Regions from separate parts of the Homo sapiens genome. Here all the other regions are linked to region 2. The links come from fine-mapping of genetic effects on gene expression. A gene starts in region 2. Each other region holds a variant in brackets. All regions are shown on one strand. Distances are from middle to middle. Region 1 holds the start of ST3GAL4 (ST3 beta-galactoside alpha-2,3-sialyltransferase 4). Region 2 holds the start of KIRREL3 (kirre like nephrin family adhesion molecule 3). Region 3 overlaps KIRREL3 (kirre like nephrin family adhesion molecule 3). Region 4 overlaps KIRREL3 (kirre like nephrin family adhesion molecule 3). Region 5 overlaps DCPS (decapping enzyme, scavenger).

The links. PIP is the estimated chance that this variant, and not a neighbour inherited with it, causes the effect.
Region 1: its variant is fine-mapped to the expression of KIRREL3 in whole blood (TOPMed, PIP above 0.99). The same link has a PIP of 0.9 or more in blood mononuclear cells.
Region 3: its variant is fine-mapped to the expression of KIRREL3 in whole blood (TOPMed, PIP above 0.99).
Region 4: its variant is fine-mapped to the expression of KIRREL3 in whole blood (TOPMed, PIP above 0.99).
Region 5: its variant is fine-mapped to the expression of KIRREL3 in whole blood (TOPMed, PIP 0.98).

What each region holds. Positions count from the first base shown.
Region 1 is chr11:126,354,204-126,358,295 of GRCh38, reverse strand. ST3GAL4 (ST3 beta-galactoside alpha-2,3-sialyltransferase 4) reads right to left here and starts at 2,610. Exons shown (of 11, transcript NM_001254757.2): 1 at 2,454-2,610. It overlaps GSEC (G-quadruplex forming sequence containing lncRNA), which reads left to right and starts at 2,709. Exons shown (of 2, transcript NR_033839.1): 1 at 2,709-2,854. RefSeq lists enhancers at 1-2, 1,652-1,801, 1,489-2,232, 2,233-2,974, 2,975-3,718 and a silencer at 2,392-2,771. The variant G/T (reference allele first, on the strand shown) is at 1,528.
Region 2 is chr11:126,998,371-127,002,484 of GRCh38, reverse strand. KIRREL3 (kirre like nephrin family adhesion molecule 3) reads left to right here and starts at 1,715. Exons shown (of 17, transcript NM_032531.4): 1 at 1,715-2,030. The coding sequence starts at 1,976.
Region 3 is chr11:126,437,818-126,441,931 of GRCh38, reverse strand. It overlaps KIRREL3 (kirre like nephrin family adhesion molecule 3), which reads left to right. Exons shown (of 17, transcript NM_032531.4): 11 at 1,383-1,483. Among named protein-coding and RNA genes, the nearest start is that of ST3GAL4, 84 kb to the right of the region's middle. The variant C/T (reference allele first, on the strand shown) is at 1,671.
Region 4 is chr11:126,464,361-126,468,474 of GRCh38, reverse strand. All of the region lies in intron 5 of KIRREL3 (kirre like nephrin family adhesion molecule 3), which reads left to right. Among named protein-coding and RNA genes, the nearest start is that of KIRREL3-AS1, 77 kb to the left of the region's middle. RefSeq lists enhancers at 1,084-1,631, 1,632-2,181, 2,729-2,788. The variant G/C (reference allele first, on the strand shown) is at 2,558.
Region 5 is chr11:126,307,588-126,311,701 of GRCh38, reverse strand. All of the region lies in intron 2 of DCPS (decapping enzyme, scavenger), which reads right to left. Among named protein-coding and RNA genes, the nearest start is that of TIRAP-AS1, 5.3 kb to the right of the region's middle. RefSeq lists an enhancer at 215-284. The variant A/G (reference allele first, on the strand shown) is at 1,823.

The sequences.
Region 1 (4,092 bases), 640 kb after region 2:
GAAGGAGGATCCCAGCGTGAGGGAAACACGGAGCGGGAGCTAAACCACCAGCAGGGGCCTGTTGCAGGGAAACGTCCAGCCGGCCCAGTGCGACTGAACTGAGGGGGCAGGAAGCAGGGGCTGTTTGCTCGGGGTGTCCCACCCTGCACTGCTGGACTGCCCCGCTCTCCAGCATCTAAGGTCCATCTCCGAGGGGCCAGGAGCTGGGCTAGGCTCTAGCGGCTGCCTTGATGGCAATCTGTAGGCTTGGACTTCAGACCCCACTTGGGGCCCAAGCTCCCTCTCCATCCCCTGCAGGCCCCCCAGCCAGCTCCTTTCCCTATCGGCCCAGGGTCTGGAACTTGGCAGGCACGGAAACATTTGTATTAGTCCAAGATAGAGGGATCCCTTCCCTCCAACAGATGGTGCAAACCTTTGAGCCATTCTGAGAAGAATTCCCAATTCCATTGGGACAACCCCAGGAGCAGCCTCTCTGAGGAGAGACCCAGAGAACGTGCCCAAGTCAGACCTGGGGTAGCCCCCAAAGCAAGGGCAGATGGTGGCCAGTGGGGAGTTAGGACAGAATGACAGCTCAAGATGGAGCACAGAAAGGGGGTTTGGTCTCTCTGCTCCTGCTGGGGAAGGGAGCCCTTTCCAGGATTAAAAGTCCAGAAAGGAGCAGATTCTTAGTTCTATCCAGAAAACCGGATTCTAGGAGTCTAACGAGGTTGGGAGGCTGGCGGGGGCACGGCACTCTCTTCCTGAGAAGCAGAGGGCCAGTCACTGCTTCCCGTAGGGAAGGCAGCCCAGAGGCACCTCAGCCTGGGCCGCCAGCTCACAGAGAAGGCGGCCCTGTTGTCTCTGAACAACAACCCATCCCCAAGCTAAAGACACCCACTCTGCCCAAAGTCCAAGCTGGCAATTTCCAATTCACTCTTCTAACTCTTCCTTCCATGTGCACCCTCACAACCTCGGTTACCATCTTGGAGTCTGGGGGATCTGGCCCCAACTCCTGGCAAGCTCCCCATGTCTTGACAGAGCCCAGGGCCCATGGGGCAGCTTAGGATCACCCACCCAGCGCAATGGGGCCAGGCACAGGAGCAGTCTGGGAGTGGGCCAGGAGCAGGGCAGGGAACGGTCAAGGGGCATTCCCAGACCAGCTCTCAGCAAGCAAAACAACCTCCCGAGTTCATTTCTAGGCCCCAAACAGCGGGCACGTCCCCGGAACCCACTCTAGAATTATCGGGCAGCTTTGGAGAGTAACAGCATGGGAGAAATATTACCAATAGTGAATATTTATACAGCTCTCCCTCCGTGCAGGCGCCTTTCAAAGCACTTAGCATATATCAACTCATTTAAAATCCCCCTGGCAGATGCCAGGGCCAGGACCTAGAGGAGGTGGAGTCTGTAGGACGGGTCCGGCACAGCTCAGGAGACAGTGACACGGGTGTGTGTCTCTTGTGAGAACTCAGCCTGTACCAGGCCTGTTCCCAAAGTTCAAAAAGAATGAGTCCGCCTGAGCCTGGCTTCCACGCGGTACCCGCCTCC[G/T]GCGGTGGAAAGTACAGGCTTCCCCAAGAGGCCTGTGGGGGGTGCCAGCTTGTGGGTGGCCATGAGGTCAGACAGGGCACAGCTGGGCACCCGAACACTGCCTACACTCCCAGCCTTCTGGCAGCAGTTCCCTTAAGCCAGGCCCTCAGGACCCAGGCTGGGGAGCAGAGGAAGCAGCCACAGTAGGTCAGGCCTCAAGCTGCCCAGACAGAGCCTCCCCCCAGGACTGGGAATGGAGGGGCAGTGCTGGCAGACATGTTGGCAGTTCTGGGCTGGCCGGGAGGTCCCTGCCAGCCAGGTCCCCGAGGAAACACCCACAGCAGACAGCTGAGCCCACTCCCCCCATCGCATCCCTCCCACTGCTCACCACCCATGCAGCCCTGAGGCACAGTGGCCTAGGCCTGACGACCCCCATAACGTGGCCCTAGGACCCTGGGCACAGCCGGCCTCCCACTGACAACTCCACCTTTGGGTCCTGCTCAGCGACCTTGCGACTCCTGCACACAGGCGGACCCCGCAAAGCCTGTCACCTCCAGCACAGTCAGCTCCCAAGTGCTGGACCTGACCGGGGTAGTTGTGGGAGAAACCATCGCTCGAGGATGCTGGAGGTGGGGGCCGCCGCTTCAGTCCGGGCGCAGGGCTGGGGGATTGGGGGCGGAAACTTTCCGCAGAACTGTCCCGCTTGCTCACTCCAAGGGAACGGAGAGGATCCGGCTTCCCGCGAAAATCTGGTCCAGGGAAAGGGACCCCGGAAAGCAGCTCCGCAGGGCTGTGGCAGCCCCACCCCGACCCGCGCTGCGCCCACGTGCAGGGCCCGACCCCCTCCGGGAGGCGCGGCGCCGGCTGGGGTCAGGCGGCCGAGGACCCCGCGGCTCCCCGCCCCGCCCCGCCCCGCGGGCCCCCGCGCACCGCCGCCGCGTACTCACCCTCACGGGTGGAGCGGGGCGGGGCAGCACGGTTCCGCGCGCAGCTCCGATCCGCTAGGCGCACCGACCGGCGGCGCAGCGCTGGCGCGACGGCTCGACTCGGCCGGGTCCCTGTCCCGGGCGCGGGTCCGGCCTGGGAGCGGGCGAGTCCGCCTGCAGGGGAGGCGGGGACCCGGGCCCGGGTTGGGGGCGGGGAAGGGGCTGGACACGCTTGCGCACACGGCGGCCCGACTCCCAGGAGCTCCCGGGAGGGGTAGAAAGGGCGGGGTGGAGGAGGGGGAAGGGCGGGGGTGATGCCGCGCGGTCGCAGGCTTGGGATGGTGTTCGCGCCTCCGAGACCCGGACAGAGGCAAGCAGGGGCGCCGTGGGTGCCAGAGAGGCGGAAGAGGAGGCCTGATGGGGTGAGCACAGGGCCAGGGCAGGCACTGCCTGTGAATGGCGCCAGGGTGGGTATGCCCAGCGCAGCCAAGGCGCTCGCTCCCGGGAACAATGAGAATCAAGAAAGGGTGCAGTGCTCTATCCCACGGGGAACGGTGTCCTTCCCTCACTGGGGAAACTGGGGCAGGGTCCTGTTCCGGGAGCCTATGCTTCCCGTGCCCCATGCACGCAAGGCAGCCAGTCAGTCCCCTGGGCCCAGACGTGGGCCCTTCCTCTGCTTCGGTTGGGGCCTGCTGCCCCTAAACTGCTCTCTCTGCACCCCTCACTTGCATACTCTTTATCTTGGCCTCAGAAAGTTTCTCAGTTTCCTTTCCGTTATTGAAGGCGCCAGGCATCCTGTCTCCAGGAAGAAACCCCTGGGCCCCTGACCCTGGTTCTTTGGACCCAGGCATCCCCCCAAATAAACCTGGGAACTGCCCAGGCTGAAGAACAGTTCAGAAGTCACCCTACAGGACAATCCACAGCCCCTTAGGCCAGTCCCTTTCACAGGTCAGCACAGTGTTTCCGGAGCCCCACGTATCAACAGCCCAGTGCCGGGAGCGCCAGGGGCTCCAAGGAAACTATCAGACCCATTCCCTGTCCCCAGGAAGCTTACCATCCAGCGGCACAGAGAAGGCTCACCATGGACTCCATTCAAGAACGAGGCAGGATAGGATGTGAATAAGTGCAAGGTGTGAGTGACTGACAGTAAGTGCAAGGGGGTTCAGAGAAGTGGCAGCTCCAAGCCTGCTTCTGCTGAAGCTGGAGGGCTTATCTGTCAAGAACCCCCAACTCAGGAAGCTCTGCTCCAAGTGAGCTGAGTAAGGAGAGTCTGCCTCCAAGTTGTTCCTCTGCAGGTGACTGTGCTCCATGCTAAATCATTCCTTGCACGGGCAGAAGCTGTTTGGCATTGCACCAGTGTCTGATTTTGTTTGAATATGGTGCCTTTGGCTTAATCAGTCAGACATGCATTCAACAACTATTTATTTATTTATTTATTTATTTATTTATTTATTATTTTGAGACAGAGTCTCGCTCTGTCGCCAGGCTGGAGTGCACTGGCGTGATCTTGGCTCACTGCAACCTCTGCCTCCCGGGTTCAAGTGATTCTCCTGCCTCAGCCTCCCGAGTAGCTGGGACTACAGGCGCGTGCCACCATGCCCAGCTAATTTTTGTATTTTTAGTAGAGACGAGGTTTCACCATGCTGGCCAGGATGGTCTC
Region 2 (4,114 bases):
CATTTATTGCATGATCTGTTACACCAGGCTAATGGACTCAGGCTCAGCTGACACTGCTTCAGTAACTTGTTTGTTAATTTAGCTAATGGGCTGCCTCTTTTGTGTCCTTTTAGTTTCTGTTGCTCAACATTTCTGTTTCTCCTCCCAAAGTTTGCTTACAAATTTCCCTTTGCTGTGTTTAACAGCCTCTAAGGGATGCAGTTAAATAAACTATTAAGTTAAGAATAGAAAAGTCAACAAAGCAGACACCTACTAATTTGTAGATCTTTGGTGTCAACTACCAGATGTCAGCTCCTACTAGCACACTTCTATATGCCCCTGCTTCTTTCTTTCTTGTTCACAAATACCAAGGGATAATTTTTTAAAGTTAACATCCGCATGGAAACTTGGAGTTGGAATGTGCCTTGTAGTGAGCAGAGTCCTCAAAAGATGTGCTACTACTGAAAGAGGAAAGGCTAAGAGTTTCCCAAAAGACCTCCCCAAGGTCCAGGGACTGAAGACAGTAATGACTGATTTTAGAATTGAATGCTAAATGGCACATGTCAGGGGAGCGTCTTTCATTTTCCTCTCCTCTCTCTTTACCTCTCCTTCTCACAGTGCATAACGTTGAATATTTTTCTGTGTTGTTTTGTTATGTCCTTAGAGTTTGCATCTTGTGTGTGTACTCTGCTTGCACACTAGATTATGAGCTTCTGAAGGCATGGTCTGTGCCTATTATTTTGCTTCCCTCCATGGCCTGCTTATACCAAGCATGCCTAAATGTCTATTAAGTAAATAGACCCAGATAAATTCATGTTGATATCCTGGAGGAAACCGAGTTTGATTTGAGTGTGGAGTGTGAATTTCATGACAGGTAAAAGGCTTGAAGATCCTTAGGACGCAGTTGTCTATGACCTTGGCCTCTCCTTTGCAATTGGACTCACAGCACCTCTTGGAGAAAAGACAGGCTCAGAGTGATGGAGCGCTCATTAGAGGAGAGGCTCTGAATGCAAAGACAGGCTGCTCCCCTGTCCTCGTTAGGAAATGCACAAACCAGGATAATGATAATAAATGGGTGTGTGTCACAAGCCTACTTGCCTTCCCTTTAGTTCCTGCATTTTGTCTTCCAGGAGCAGTGCAAAGCAAACTAAGATCCAAATGTTCAGGTTTTATTACCTACCCCCCCCCCCCACCACAACCACCCACCCACCCACAGGAAACTCTCAGAAATGCAAAGCATGCTTATCTCTTCTCCAACTCCGAGCCTCCCGCTGCACACATTGGCCAAGTCCTTCCGAGGGAAAGATGCGCACCCCCCCTTCCTAGTTCCCTTTCAGCCCAGTTTCCAGTTCCTTTGCAAAGGCAGGGCGTGCATGTTTTTGTGCACATGCATGTGGATAGTCATCCTTAACTTCACTGTTAAACAGGACATCGTGTGGACAAAAAGTCACAGCTCCACTCCAAGCTCAAGATGCCTTTTGGTCAATAATGGTGACAAAAGCTGAATTTTTCCCTATTTAGGGAAAAGAAAGAACACAGCCTTTTCCCCCACTGTCCGTTTTGCATAGATCTCCTTTTTCCGAGTGTTTCCTCTTTAATTATGACCTGTCTCCCCTCCCTCTCCCCTCGCCTCAGCTTCAGTGAAAGGAGTCCTTCTGTCACTCGTCACTAGCTCGCTCGCTCACTGTGGGAGGAGCCCGCCTGAGGAAGCCGTGTGCCTGGGATGCCAAGAGCCAGAGAATGGATCTTCTCCGAGTGGGGACATTGCTGACAATCCCGGCTTCCCGAGGCGGCTAAGAACAGGCAGTTTGTGTCGGCTGGCTGCAGATACCCAGAGGCACAAAGAGACCGAAGCCACCCGGAGGGACCCACGGACGGACAGATGGTAGGCGCGAACCCGAGAGGACCGGCGGAGGCTGAGCACCGAGAGCCGCCAAGGAAGAGAAACTAACCACAGCCAAGTTACCCCGCCGGCTTTCCTTCGCTGCGCTAAGGAATGAAACCCTTCCAGCTCGATCTGCTCTTCGTCTGCTTCTTCCTCTTCAGTCAAGGTAGGACCCCTGCGCTGCTGGAGTTGGAAGAAAGTCGGCTGGGTTGTCAGGGCGCGGGAGGCTGTGGGCAGGAACGTGGGCAGGCTTCGGGAACTCGGACTGATGGATGCGTCTCTCGGTGCCGGGCTGAGATGCTCTGGCATTGCCTCTTCGCCTTTGCGAATGCAACAAAATGGTACTGTTTATTTTCCTTTGGAAAGAAGGGGTATGGGAGGGGAGGGGAATGACTTTCTCCTCTCACTTGTCAATATCCAGCTCAAACTCTCCAATGCAAATGAGTTCTTTATGCTTCTGGTATGTTAATTAGGTAGTATCTCTGTGGTTATGCCGCTCTGAACTTCTGGGCACCTCCTCTCCTTCAGACCCAGGCCAGGGAAGGAGACGGCAGGGAGGGAGAGCTTGGTTTAGGTGGATATTTCAGCTTGAATAGGGTTTGACTTGCACAAGTGTATTCAAAAGCGAATGTGTGTGGTTTGCACCGTTGAAAAGGGGGTTGCAATTACAGAATGTATTGTGGGGGGTAATTTGCAGTGGTTGGGAAAAGCTTGTAAAGAGTTTCATTGAACGTCATCGAGTTCCCTAAATTAGGTTGAATTCTGAATCCTACACAGCACTGAATTCAGGGTATAAAATGAAATTTCGCCCGTGGTGCTGATGGTTTCCTTTCTGCAGCCTAGCAGGGGCAGAGAAGCAGGTGGACTCTCCGGAAAGAACTTTGCCACCTCTAGGCTCCTTGCCACTGGGAGCCCTGGGGCTGGTAGTGGTGCAGAAAGGAGAGGGAAATTCGGGAGAGGGAATGTGAGTGCCTAGTTGGCCAAAGGCATCAAAAGTCACCTGTGGAATTGAGTTTGGAGGGGCAAGTACATGGGCTCCTTCCCGCTCTTTTGGAATGCCAATGCACCTCTGCCATCTGAGGCTGCATTTGTGCCAGCCAACACAGCTCTTAGAGGTGCAAGACTCAGAAAAAATCCACAACAGAGCACGTCCATCTGTTGATTAAATGAAGGGTAAAAGTTTTCGAGAAAGCAAAGCACTGCCATGGGTGGCTGGCTTTGCAAGCAAACAGCATGTCTTCTGTTTCTCCCCTGTCGGGGAGAAGCCAAATATAAGCAAAAACCTGGCTTCCTTCTTCTGCTCTTCCACCCGTGCTTGTGGTCACTGCAGACTTTCTCCTTATCTGTGCAGTTCAAACTTTGCTTCTGGTCCTCCTGATGAAACCGAAGGGGCTCCTTCTTCATATTTGTATGTGCATACTAATGCCTGTGTATAATGATAATGTATGTACACACACACACACACACACACTCATGTATTCATATGGTTGTGTGCTTCTCACCAAGGCTCCCTACAGCAGCAGGAAGATAAATTGCCTTCCCCAGAGTTTCAGGCTGAATGAATAAGAACTCTCTCAGAACACTGGTATAGAGACAGGTTCAGTTATATTACCATTTGGTAAGATTACCCTCTTTCTTGGATGTGTATGTGCTTGCTTATGAGCACACACACACACACACACACACACACACACACACACACACTCCCATTCGTCTTTGCTTCTTACCAGTTCACTCAGGAAGTTTTGATATAGAACCCCTGAGAAGGAGGGAATCTTCCAACCAACCCCCCGTAAACACACAAACTCACATTTGCATGGGACCAGTGCATGCTTTAATCAGCCTTTTGTGTAGTTAGAAGCTTGATCCGTGATACTTATGTAGATTGGCATAAGAAGGCTATAGGTGTCTAAGTACCTCCCTGGCCGTCTGAATCATTACAGTGTACATCTTCTGTTGTGCTTATTTCTTTCTTGGTCTGGAGCTGTTTCTTGACTGCTTCATGTGAATCTTTAAATATTTACCTATGGAGGTTAAATGCTCTGTTTTATCTACCCCGAGTCCTGAGAGCGCTAGGAAGAAACCATAACATCATGCAGTTCTTAATGCCTTGTGCTCCTGGAGTGTTCTGAGCTTGGCCATCACTGTCCACCCTACCAAATGGTAGATACCTGGTCCAGAGGCTGGAAAACAGGTCTAAACAAAAATGAGGAGACCCAAGTGGACATGGCTGGTCAGATACCCTGCATC
Region 3 (4,114 bases), 560 kb after region 2:
GTTCCTAAAACATCAATCTCCTCATCTCTTTGGGTCCTAGACCTGTTGGAGCTGAAGGATTTTTAGGAAGGAGGGCAGCGCTCAGCCCATTCTTAAAGCCATGGAGGGTCCCCCACGCCCACCTCACGCTGCCCCGAGCCCTTTTGCCTTCTCAAACTCAACAGAAGTCACTGGAGTGTCTACAGTACCTTTTCTCCCTTGGCTGAGAGCTACTCATAGAAATGCAAATCTGCTTTAATTAAGGTGGCTAATAAACAGCAATTATGTTTGCAGCAATTTTTGTTTTGTTCCTGCATAATTCTGTGTGTTCTCCAGATGCGTTGCTCCCGGCTGTCTTTCCTCTGGTATCTGCCATCTAAGTCCCAACTGTGACCCCAGGGATTGGAAAGGGAGCATGACAGTTTCCGTCCCTACTCCCATCCTTCAACCACCCAGCCCAGCCAGGAAGCCAGCAGAGCCCAGGCTAAGCTAGCTGCTCCTTCTTTTGTCTTTCACGGCCAGGCAGGCGTCACAGGGGAAAGACTTGGGTTAGGTAACAGGCGGAACTGGACAGGAGGCGCTGGGGAACAGGCTCCCCTCCACCAGGTGAACTCTCTTGGCTGTGCAATGTGGTGAATGAGACAGGCGCTCTCAGAACCTGACACCCATAAACATGTGCCACACTCTGTGATATGATAATATTGGGGTCAGTTTGGGAGCCATGGCCTCACTTGGGCAGTCTGGGTATGGACGTGGAGGCAGACAAGATGATGAACTGCAGGACCTCCTGAGACACAGGTGGGAGGAGGGCTGTGAACACGGCCAGCGCATGCATTCCCCCTGTCCGGGGTGATTCCCGCCCTAAGGAGAGGGACAGCAACCATTTCTTCCCGTTGGCCCGTCTGGCCGAGCAGCTCCCATTTGTTAGGCAAGGGCGCCCTCTACTGGATATCTGAGGAATGGCTCGCAGGGGTGCCGCTGGCTGAGGCGGGGGAGTCTTCCTTCATCTAGACACCTCCCCACCCCCTCTGCAGGCTTACCACCTCCTCCCTAAAGCTTTCCCCGTCCGCCAGATAGAATTATTCTCTCTCCTCTGAAGTCGGTTAGCACTTTATCTGCACCGCTCCTGTGGTACTAACACTCACCACCTTTTATTACAGTTATTTGTATCTTCTGGGGGTTCTGACTTAGAAGCATTCGCTCATGATCCCTTGAGAGGTTTATGACTGAATGCCTAATTTATCTCTGAGTCCTCTACCTTGCACTTTACCTTGCACATACAGGCCTTCGGCAAATGTTTGCTGAATGCTTGGATTAATGAATACACTTCTGAACCCACCCAAGAGGGCGCCAGCAGGGACGTGCCCTTCCCGGGTGCCTAATGGGACGCTGTTTCTCAACAGGACCCCCCATCATCTCCAGCACCCAGACCCAGCACGCCCTCCACGGCGAGAAGGGCCAGATCAAGTGCTTCATCCGGAGCACGCCGCCGCCGGACCGCATCGTGAGTGCTCCAGGGACGGCGGGCGGGGGCCGGGCCAGCAGCCCAACAGTCACTTTTGCCAATACCTGGGTGGCCAGCCAGGCGGTGCACACCTCCGAGGTTCCTCTTTCTTGCTGAGGAAAATTATACCTGCCTTGGCTGTCTTGGAAAAGCATCGTGAAGACACAATTGCAGGCCTTTCTCAGAA[C/T]AGGCAGTGCTCTCCCAGGGTTCAGCTGCCATTCTGCTGAGCTCTGACATGAACGGCTCTGACCAAATTCCGCATCCTAAGGGCAGAGGGGCACACGAGGGTAGTGGAGAGAAAAGACAAGTGACTTCTTCTCTTCCTGGGCTCCAGGCCAGTCTTTAGCAAAATCTTAGAGCGCAGGTAATAGTTGGCAACCCCTTTCTGTGCCTCCTGGAGCCCTCCTTGCCAGGTCTCTGTGGCCTTTACTGTCCATGGTAGCCTGCCCTGTTGCCTATCAATCGTCCCCTCTAAAGTGACCATTCCATTCTCTCTCCCTTCCTCAAAGAACTTATCCCTGCAATGCAGCTAAGGCAACTGAGGAGTCCACCCTCAGCGCCTCCTACCAGCTATCTGCTTGGTTTTTTTGTTTGTGTGTTTTTTGGGTTTGTTTGTTTGTGTTTGTTTTTTGAGATGGAGTCTCGCTCTATCACCCAGGCTGGAGTGCAGTGACACAATCTCGGCTCACTGCAACCTCCACCTCCCAGTTCAAGCAATTCTCATGCCTCAGCGCCTCTTGAGTAGCTGGGATTACAGGCATCTGCCACCACACCTCGCTAATTTTTGTATTTTCAGTAGAGATGGGGTCTCACCATGTTGGTCAGGCTGGTCTCAAACTCCTGGGCTCAATCGATCCTCCTACCCCAGCCTCCCAAAGTGCTGGGATTACAGGCGTGAGCCACCATGCCCAGCCAGTATCTGCATTTTTTTAAAGGGAGGGTCTTACTGAGCAGGAGCCTCATGTCTGTAATCCCAGCACTTTGGAAGGCTGAGGTGGGAAGATCGACTGAGCCCAGGAGTTTGAGACCAGCCTGGGCAACATAGTGAGACCCTGTCTCTACAACAACAACAAAAAAATTAAGGTGAGGGCAGAGTCTTTTTTTCCCTCTTTCTTTTTTGAGACAGAGTCTCTCTCTATCACCCAGGCTGGGTGCAATGGTGCAATCTTGGCTCACTGCAACCTCCACTTCCTGGGTTCAAGCAATTCTCCTGCCTCAACCTTCCAAGTAACTGGGATTACAGGCACCTGCCACCACACCCAGCTAATTTTTTTGTATTTTTAGTAGATAAGGTTTCACCATGTTGGCCAAGCTGGTCTCAAACTCCTGACCTCAGGTGATCCAGGGGCAGAGTCTTGTACTCAAATCCATCTAAAACTGGAGGGATCTCAGGCATGAAAACAAAGAAAAGTGAGCATTTTATAGCACTACTCGGGGAAAACTTATTTGTAGTAATTCCCAGTGTATGGCAAAATCCTGCTAGAAGACTGTCCAGGGGTGGAGTGGGCAGGGCAGTTGTGCAGGGAGGGTGGGGCTGGCCCAGATGTGAAGCAGCTGAGGTCACCCCTAACCCGTGCATGCGGGGGCTGAGACACCCAGGCTGCACCAACTGAAACTGTCATCCTGTTAACTAAGATATTATTAGAGTATTATTGCTGCTACACGCTTTCTCAAGCATTCAGTTCATTCACTGTCTGAAAGATTCACAAAAAAATTGCAAGAACTCATGAATAAAACTAATACCTACGCCTCCCCATTCACTTTGCTTTTTGATGTTTTTAATTATAAATGTAACACATGCTCATTGTCAAATATTCCATTCACTCTTGGACATTTTCACACCTTCTCTCCAGAAATATCTGATTCTAGGCCAGCGGTTCTCACTGGCCCCAGGGGACATTTGGCAGTGCCTGGAGACATTTTGGTTGTCATCACTTGGAGGATACTCCTGGCACCGGGTGTGTAGAGGCCAGGGTGCTGCTGACATCCTGCAATGCCTGGGAGAGCCCCACGGCCAGGAATGGGTCAGTCCAGCGTGACAATAGCAGCAAGCTTGAGAAACTCAGTCCCTCTCATCAGCCCCGAACCAGGATATACGAGGCGCTTACACGATGAGGTGCAGACAGTGTATGTGGCCGGCTCTGAAAACTGTTAACCAGCAGCCCTGTAAACTAAGGCAGACGAAGGTGATCGCAAACACAGCTCTGTAGACACATTTCTCACACAGACATACAACATCACACAGGTAGACGCGTTCATGGGGCTGCTGTCCTAACTCACACCCACCCAGGCAGCCACAGTCCCGGGGGGCATTTGTGTGGAGGCGCAGTGCGCAGGCCAACAGGGCACCCACTTTGCCCAGAAAGATGCTCCCCAGGCCCCTTTCTGGGATGGAAAGACCCTCTGAGGATGCCCCAGAGTATGTGTGTGTACATGTGTTTGTGGATTGTGTACATGTGTGGTGTGGGTGTGTTACCGTGTACATGTGTCATGGCATGTGTGAACATGTGTATCTGTTGGTAGTGTGTGTACTTGTGTGTGTGAGCACATGGTGTGTGTGTATGTCATAGTGTGTGTACCTGTAAGTACACATGATGGTGTGTATGGCGAATGTGTGTATGTGTTGCAGTG
Region 4 (4,114 bases), 530 kb after region 2:
GGCCATGCTTCTCCTTAACAGGCCACTGTCACAGCCTCCAGGGTGCAGGGCGAGCCACACTGCCGGATGGGGCCTTGGGCAGTGCCCACTGCAGGCTCCCAGCGGGTGTCGGCTGCAGAGGCACAGAGCAGGAAAAGGCCCCTCCAAGCTTCTTCCTGGAGACTCAACCCTGGGCTGTCTGGGGACAGTGGGTTCCTTCCCTGTTCCTCATACTTCTGAGGGCCTGGCGCCAGAGTGGAGACCACATTCTTTCTTCTGGAAAGCCCCCAAGTCCACACAGCAGGGGAGGAAGGATGGGTTACGGAAGAGGAGGGGCGAGAGGACAGGCTGAGCCCAGAAAGAACCCTTCCTAAGTGCAGCTTCCTGCCAGGCAGGAGGGTTGCAAGGTCTTAGCACGCACAGTCGTGTCTGTGTCTGCTTGGAGCCCCTTGCCCTCTACCCCTACCACCAGGACCACTGGCCTCGCCTTTTACCACCTTTGCTAAGAGGAGCTCTGGAGACCCCACTCAGGAAAGGGATAAGTGCCCACATGCATAGGGCCCTCACCCTCCACTGGGCACCCCCTCCCTGGTCACTCACCCATCACCCTGCACCTATCTGCCCAGCTTAGGGGCCTAGAGTCTCCACTGGGTGTGGCCGAGGCTCATCCTGGCCTTCTCTGTGAAGGGCACCCCTCTGGCCTCTGGCCTCAAGGCTGGATGCAGGGACTGGGGCAAAAAGCACTGCGCATCCTCCACCTGGCCCACACACCCTTATTCAAGCCAGGTGGCAACCAGCCCATGGGGAGCCCCAAGCAGCTATCAAAAGGGGAAGCAGAGCCATGATTTTTTAAAAAAAAAAAAAAAGGGACCCAGCAGGTGGGGAAGGTGAGTAGCGGGGAGAAGCGAGGCGGCCTTGCTGCCAGGCAATCAGGCTACTCTCGGCCTTTCCAGACGGTTTGCCTGTCATCGGGCACCCCATATTTAGCACCAGTGCTTGGGCCCCCACCCCTTGTCTGCCCTCCAGCCCACCCATTTCCGAGAGCTCAGCCTGGCTCTCCACTGCCCAGAGGAGGCCCTGGGGGCTTTGGAAAGAGCAGAGTGGCCAGCCACTGCCACCCAAGCAGGAAAACCATGGGGTGGGGTACACTGTGTACAACCATACCTGGGAAGACCGGCCTCCCAGGCCGGTGCTGGGGAACTAGAGAAGTGAGTGCCAAATCCCTGCCCTTAGGGAGGGGCAGTGGGGGTGGGTGCACAGCCCTGAGGCGGCACCTGAGCAGGCAGCGTCCAGAGAGAACCTGGGGCCCCGCAGAGTCACGGCAGTCAGTGGACAGAGGCCCATGAACACCCAAAGACAAAAACAGGTACGCGCACATACCCACGGGGGTGTATGCCCTGGCACGCTCGTTCCCGGACACATGCTGCACACACGCCATCTATATGCCTGCCCCTGGCCCATATCTGCACACACAGGAGCTGGGTCCTCGGGGACTCTTGGGAGCCACCATGGCAGTCACATGGGCAACCTGGGCGAGCCGGGGGCTGGCAGCACGTTAGTGCTCACCACACTGGAGGGAGGCCTTGGAGGCGGTGGCTCCCACAGTGAGTGGCCCACCATGAATAACTCACTTCCTTCTGGAGCTCACCTGCAAGGCATGAAGCTTTCTGAAGCAGGAGGTGGGAGGTTCAATGCCCATGGTGTGTCCCCAGAGCCAAGCTCAGTGAAGGGAAGCAGGGAAGGGAGGGGCGGAGTGGAGCTGCGACTAGAACCTGCAGATGATAGAATGTTCTCCTGGACAGTACCTTCAAGGCTGCAAAGTCCAGAGGCTCCATTTGCATATGAGAAAAGTGACAATTAGGGGAGATTCATTTCTGAAAAGGAGTGAAGCAAAAGAAACAAGAGAGGCGAGATCAGAAAGGAATGGGGGAAGAGAAACCCGGGGGTGCAGATCCCCCGTGCCCCTCCACATCCCGCCCTGTCCTGCAGGTGCAGGGCTCCCTCCAGCCTTCCCCCTGGGCCCCCCAGCTCTGTCCCACCTTCCTCCCCTCAGTCGTCCTGCAGCAGAGCTGGCAGACCCAGCCTTCCTCCCTGGGATACCCGCTGCACGGGGCCTGGGGTCCCCCGCGAGCTAGGGGCCCAGGAGGTGCTGGGACCTTCCACGGGGACAGAGAGGGTGTTGGTGCTGGGGCACGTGCCTTCCCCTCACCCTCCTTTTGTTTAATGAACACATCTCCCTTTTTCTCTAATTAGGTGGAACAAACAACTTGAACCAGAATTTTTATTTCCCAGAAAAGCACACGCCTGGACCCAGTAAATATGTCATTAATCATCATTCCGAGGCGGAGGAGCACGCTGGGTGCAGGGAGGAGGGGGAGCAGTCAGAGGGCCTAATTAGAGCTGGGTCCCCTCCCTCCCCTGCCACTGGCACCCACCGCCCAGAGCCCATCCGTTGGAAGGGCTCCTGGCAGAGTCAAGCTTATGTAAATGTCCCTTGTTAGCACAACGGAAATGTAAAGAAGAGAAGAAGAATACCAACCTGCTCCTCACCACCTCCCCGCCCCTGCGCGCCCTACCC[G/C]AAGTCTTAGTTTCATCCAGGAAATTGTTCTTATTATCACTTGGCTATTTATAGACTCGATGAGGTCTGCTGAAGAGCCCAAGGCAGGGTGGTAAAGCGGTGCCAGCTGCTGCTCCCTCCCTGCCCGGGCTTTGGCTTGGGGTTCAACTTCACTCCTCTGCAGTGGTCCTGCCCCCGGCTTGCTGCATCTGGCCACGTCACTCTCCTCCAGCCCCTCTGCCCAGGGCCGTGGCTGGCACCCTGAGTCCCAGGCCTGCAGCTGCACCGCGTGGCTCTCTAGAATGTCACAGTCCGGCTTTGCCTCCAGCAAGATGTGCTGTTCTATATAGAGGCTCTGGCCCTGTTCTCCTGACGCCACGAGGTTTGCCCCAAGTTGAGAAAAACCTCACTGAATTAAGGACCCAGAATGTGGGGTTCTAGGAGCTTACAGGTTTCTCCCTGTGGCCCTAACTGTTCCCATCTGTCCTGCCAAGAGCACGGTACCCACCGTCCAGCACCCCCGGGGCTGCAGCAGAGGCTGTGGCTCAGGGTTCACCCATTCTTAAGTGCAAATCCTAGCTCCACCCAGCAAGTTCCCGGCTCACTTGGAACACAGGTTTCTCTTTGGCTAATCAAAGATAATGCTGCTGTCTTCCGGGGCCCTCATAAGAATTAGAGACATTGCCATTGTCACTTTATGGGAGGTTTTGAGGGAGGAGTGGTCTGTTCATCTACTCCCTGGCTCCAGTCGGGGGAAACAGGACTGCACCCATAGTGAGGTTCCTTCCTAGTACCTCCTAGTAGCAGAAGCCTTTGCATACTGACCAGACCCCAATCCCAACCTGGAAGTGCACCCCCACACACACTCAGCACACCCTCCCCGGGGTGCACCTGACTTAGTGCGCCCCAAAGTGATGGGGAAGTAGCTGCAAAGAGGAACAGGAGAGGGAAGGAGGTAGCAGCCACAATGGGGAACTAGCTTCGGAATGACATTGTGGCCCAGTAGAGAAAAGCAATGACCTGGGAAGGTGGGAGACCAGCAGTTAAGATGGGTTTGCTTCCTAGGGCTGCCATTACAAAGCACCACAATTCGGTGCATGACACAACAGAAATCAATTATCTCACAGCTGTAGAAGCCAACAAGTCTGGAATCAAGGTGTCAGCAGGGCTGTGCCCCTCCAAAGGCTCCAGGGGAAAATCCTTCCTTGCCTCTTCCAGCTCCTGGCAGCTCCTGGCATTCCTTGGCTTGTGGCAGCATCCCTCCAATCTCTGCCTCCACCTTCACCTGGCCTTCTCTGTTTCTCTCTGTCTTCTCCTCATCCTCCTCTTCTCCTCCTCCTCCTCTTCTCTTTCACTTTCTCTTTATCCTTCTCCTTCTTCTTTTTCTTTTTCTTTTTCTTCTTCTTCTGAGGCAGGGTCTCACTCTGTGGCCCTGGCTGGAGTACAGTGGCACAACCTCAGCTCACTGCAGCCTCAACCTTCCGGGATCAAGTGATCCTCTCACCTTAGCCTCCCAAGTAGCTGGGACTACAGGCACAAGCCACCATGCCTGGCTAATTTTTTTTTAATTTTTTTCTT
Region 5 (4,114 bases), 690 kb after region 2:
CCCACCCCATCACTCCTGACATAACAGCCTCATTTCTGTTCTTCTTTCCATCCCCAGAACACGTGCTATTCCTCAGCCCAGAGTGTTCTCCCCTCTTTGCACAGCTGGCTTCTTCCCATCTTTCAGGCCTCAGCCTGGGTGTCAGCTCCACTGCAGAGAGCCCTCCTAGAGCCCTGGTCTGAGTAGGCTCTCTCCTGCTCATGGCCACTCAGACATCTGCTTCCTTGTTTGCTGTCTGCCTTCCCCACTAGAACTGCAAAGACAGGGAGACATCGGTTATCTTCACCAACACAGACCTTGCTTCTACTAGAGTAGCTGGCACATAGCAGACACTTCACATTTGTTAAATGAATAAAGAAATGTCCCAGGTCCTCATGGTTAGCAAATGGCAAAGCCAGGATTCGCACCCAGGTCTGCCTGACGTGAGGCTTGTTCTCAGCACTGGCACTGTGCTAAAACTCAGAAACAGCATGTTGCTGCCCCAGTGCATGCCATGAGAAAGCATGAGTGCCCCAGCATGACTAACTCCTAAAGCCCATGCTCTCTCCATTATGTCGTTGGGATGGACATTGCAGCTGGAAGGATGAGTGGCTCACACGAGCAGCCTCTTGCAGTCAGCTGAGAACGTGGAGGGGATAAACGAATGAGGAGACTGCAAAACCTCCAGACTTGAAGAGGAAAAGAAAGTTGCCAGTGACCAGAGGAATACCAGAAAAAAATCAGCTGAGCCCATGATTTCTACTGTGGCCAGCTCAGAAATGAGGGGTGGGGGCTCCCCTAGGCAAACAGTATTCTAGGAAGGAGGTCTAAAGAAGCAGCCAGAGACAGCAGAAAAACTCAAAGGCACAACCATGCAGGGGGACAGAGGGCTGAGGCTGCAGGAACTGCACATTCAGGGCCCTCGGGGTGGGCAGCATTGAGTTGACTCCAAGGCTGGGACTGGAGAGGGAGGTCCCAGGCTCTGACTTAGCTGGCCTTCCCACAGAGGGGACAGCTGGAGTGGGCCACAGGACTATTTTGGCAATGCTGCCACCTTGTGGCTGTGGAATGCCCAGCCCACAGGAAAACAAATCTACACATAGGTCAGTTTGTGGGTTCATTCTTCACTTATTGAAAGCACCTAATATGGGCGACATGGCTCCAACCTTCGAGGACCTCACCCCTTATATCCAGGCAGTGACCAAACTCTCCTCTTTTCACCACTATGTCCCCACCCCTGACCCCAAACAAGACTGTGAGGGCAAGGATGGTATCTTACTCATCTCTGAAGCTACGGTACGCGGCATAGGGCCTGGCACATGAGACTAATAACAGCAGCTACTACTTAGTATTGTGCTCAGTGCTTTTAAGTACATTAGCGCATCGGATTCTTGAATTGCACCTATGAGACCTCCAAATGGAGATGTCAAGGAGGGCTTTATTTCAATATGAGCCCGGAGTTCTTGGAGAGGTCAAGGATGGAGAAATAAAGGTGGGCGTCGCCGGCATACAGATGGTGTTTTTTTAAAGACCAGTGCCTCTCAAAGTTTTACGTGCATATGGCTCACCAGGGAGTTGTGCTAAAATGCAGACTCCAGTGATTCTGTAGTCTGAAATGGGGAGGAGATTCTGTTTTACCAGACTCCCAGGTGGTGCGAATACTGCTGGTTCACAAACCACACTTTGAGTGGTAAAAATCTGGAACAGAGGTTAACAAACTATGGCCAGCTGGACCTCTATTTGTACAATCAGCAAACCAAGAGTGATATTTTCATTTTCACAGGGGTTGAGAAAAAGAAGAAGGAAGGAGAAGGCAGAAAAGGCAGAAGAAGAAGGGGTTGGG[A/G]AGGAAGATGGGAGGAAAAGAAGAAGAGGAGACAGAGACCATTTGTGCCTCACAAGGCCTAAAATATTGACTCTTTGGTTTTTGACAGAAAAAGTTTGACAATCCTGACCTCAAATATCACCCAGGGAAAAGCTATGCAGCTAAACAAGGGAGCAACCGGGCCCTGAAGCAAACCGCTGCGACTTCCAAATCCCCATCCCTAGTTTTGGTAGGAAAAGCAGGAGCGAAAGGCACCGCATGTACAGTCGGCCCTCCGTATTGTGGGTTCCATATCTGTGGATTCAACCAAATGAAGAATAAAAATACTTAAAAAAAGAAGGACATTGCGTCTGTATTGAATACGTACAGACTTTTCTTGTCATTATTACCTAAAAAACATGGTATAATAACTATTTACATAGCATTTACATTGTAGCAGGCAGGAGATGTGCTTAGGGTACATGCAAATACTACACCATTTTATATCAGGGACTTGAGCATCCACAGATTTTAGTATCCAAGGAGAGTCCTGGAACCAATCCCCAGTGGATACTGAGGGATGACTTATATACCAAGAAGGCAGGAAGGCCAGGGGCAGCGGCTCATGCCTGTAACTGTAATCCCAGCACTTTGGATCACCTGAGATCAGGAGTTCGAGACCAGCCTGGCCAACATGGTGAAACCCCATCTCTATTAAAAATACAAAAATTAGCTGGGCGTGGTGGTGTGTGCCTGTAAATCCCAGCTACTCGGGAGGCTGAGGCAGGAAAACCACTTGAACCTGGGAGGCGGAGGTTGCAGTGAGCCAAGAACGTGCCATTGCACTCCAGTCTGGGTGACAAGAGCAAAACTCCATCTCAAAAAAAAAAAAAAAAAGGGGCAGGAAAAGAAAAGATGAACTAACATCTGAGGCTCCCAGGTGGGTGGGGGTGGCCCTGGAGACACCTGGGGTTCTGAGTGGGAACAAGGACTTGTGGTGGGCCAATAACCCACTGCCTCTTTCAGTGCTTATCTTGGGAAAAACAATAGAAACAGAAAGGGCGAGCAGGGACTACCTCCACTTGTGTGCAATGCCACAGAAGGACTGGGAAAATAAAAAGGACAGCCTGTGAATTCCACAGGGTTCATCTGTCGGGCAGAACCTTCTGAATTTTGGCCAAGGGTGGGGAGGGTGGGTAGAGGGATTTCGGAAGGTGAGGGAAAGGGTGTGGCAGTAAAATAATAGCCCCTAGAGCCTGCAATGCAGGGGGCCACCCCAAGTTGTGTTTGGCCACGGTGCCTTCTGTCATTCTTCTGCCGCCCTGTGCTGAGGAATACATTTGCTTAAACGTCACTGCCTGAGAAAGGAAATACAGCTGTCCATTTCCATCAACTTGCACCAATTAATCTGGCTTTTGCTCAATGGAAGACAAGGCTGTTTTGCATTAAGTCATGAAAGGTTTGCTTGTCTCACCATGAAGTGTTCACATATTTCCAAAGGACAACAATAGCACCCTTTCATGGAGGGCAGAAAAGAATATCTATCAAAAGACTGTGGGGCAAGATATCTGCAAAGCCAGACCGCTCTTAAATGCTGGAGGGCAAACAAGAAGACAGAAGGATATGACAAAGTCACCATGTGCTGTAAAACAAATTCCAGAATTTGCTGGTTGGAAGGAATCTTTAAGGTCAACCAGTCTCACTCATGTTTCCAACAAAGCTGCCTACAAAATCTAACCATCTTGAGAAAAAATGCACATGTCACACCTGGCTTTTGGCATGGAATATTCTTTTTAATAAATTAAGAAATGCTTGCAATGAAAAACAAATCTCTGCCTTTTAACCCACGAGTTCTTGCCCTTCTCTCCCATCCCCCTTGATCTCACTAGTTGTCTCTCCCACCAGAAAGTAGGTTCCTTCAGGGAAGTGACTGATTTTTGCAGCACCAGACACACTGGCCGGCCCACAGAATGAGTATGGTGAGCAAGACCCCAGTCTACTGAAAAACCTTAGCTTTCCCGCCACCTACTGGCTGTGTGATTTTGGACAAGTTATTTAACCTTTCAAAAACCGGTTTCCTCATTCGTAAAGTCCTCCTTACAAGAGGGCTGTTTTGAGGATTAACTGTGTTAATACATGTAGATACAATAGTAAGGATTTCCTAAGTGTTGTTGACAATTTTTATCATTCAATTAGTAGATTAATCTATTATTCTGGCTGGGCACGGTGGCTCACACCTGTAATCCCAGCACTTTGGGAGGCCAAGACGGGTGGATCACGAGGTCAGGAGTTCAAGACCAGCCTGGCCATGATGGAAACCCTGACTCTACTAAA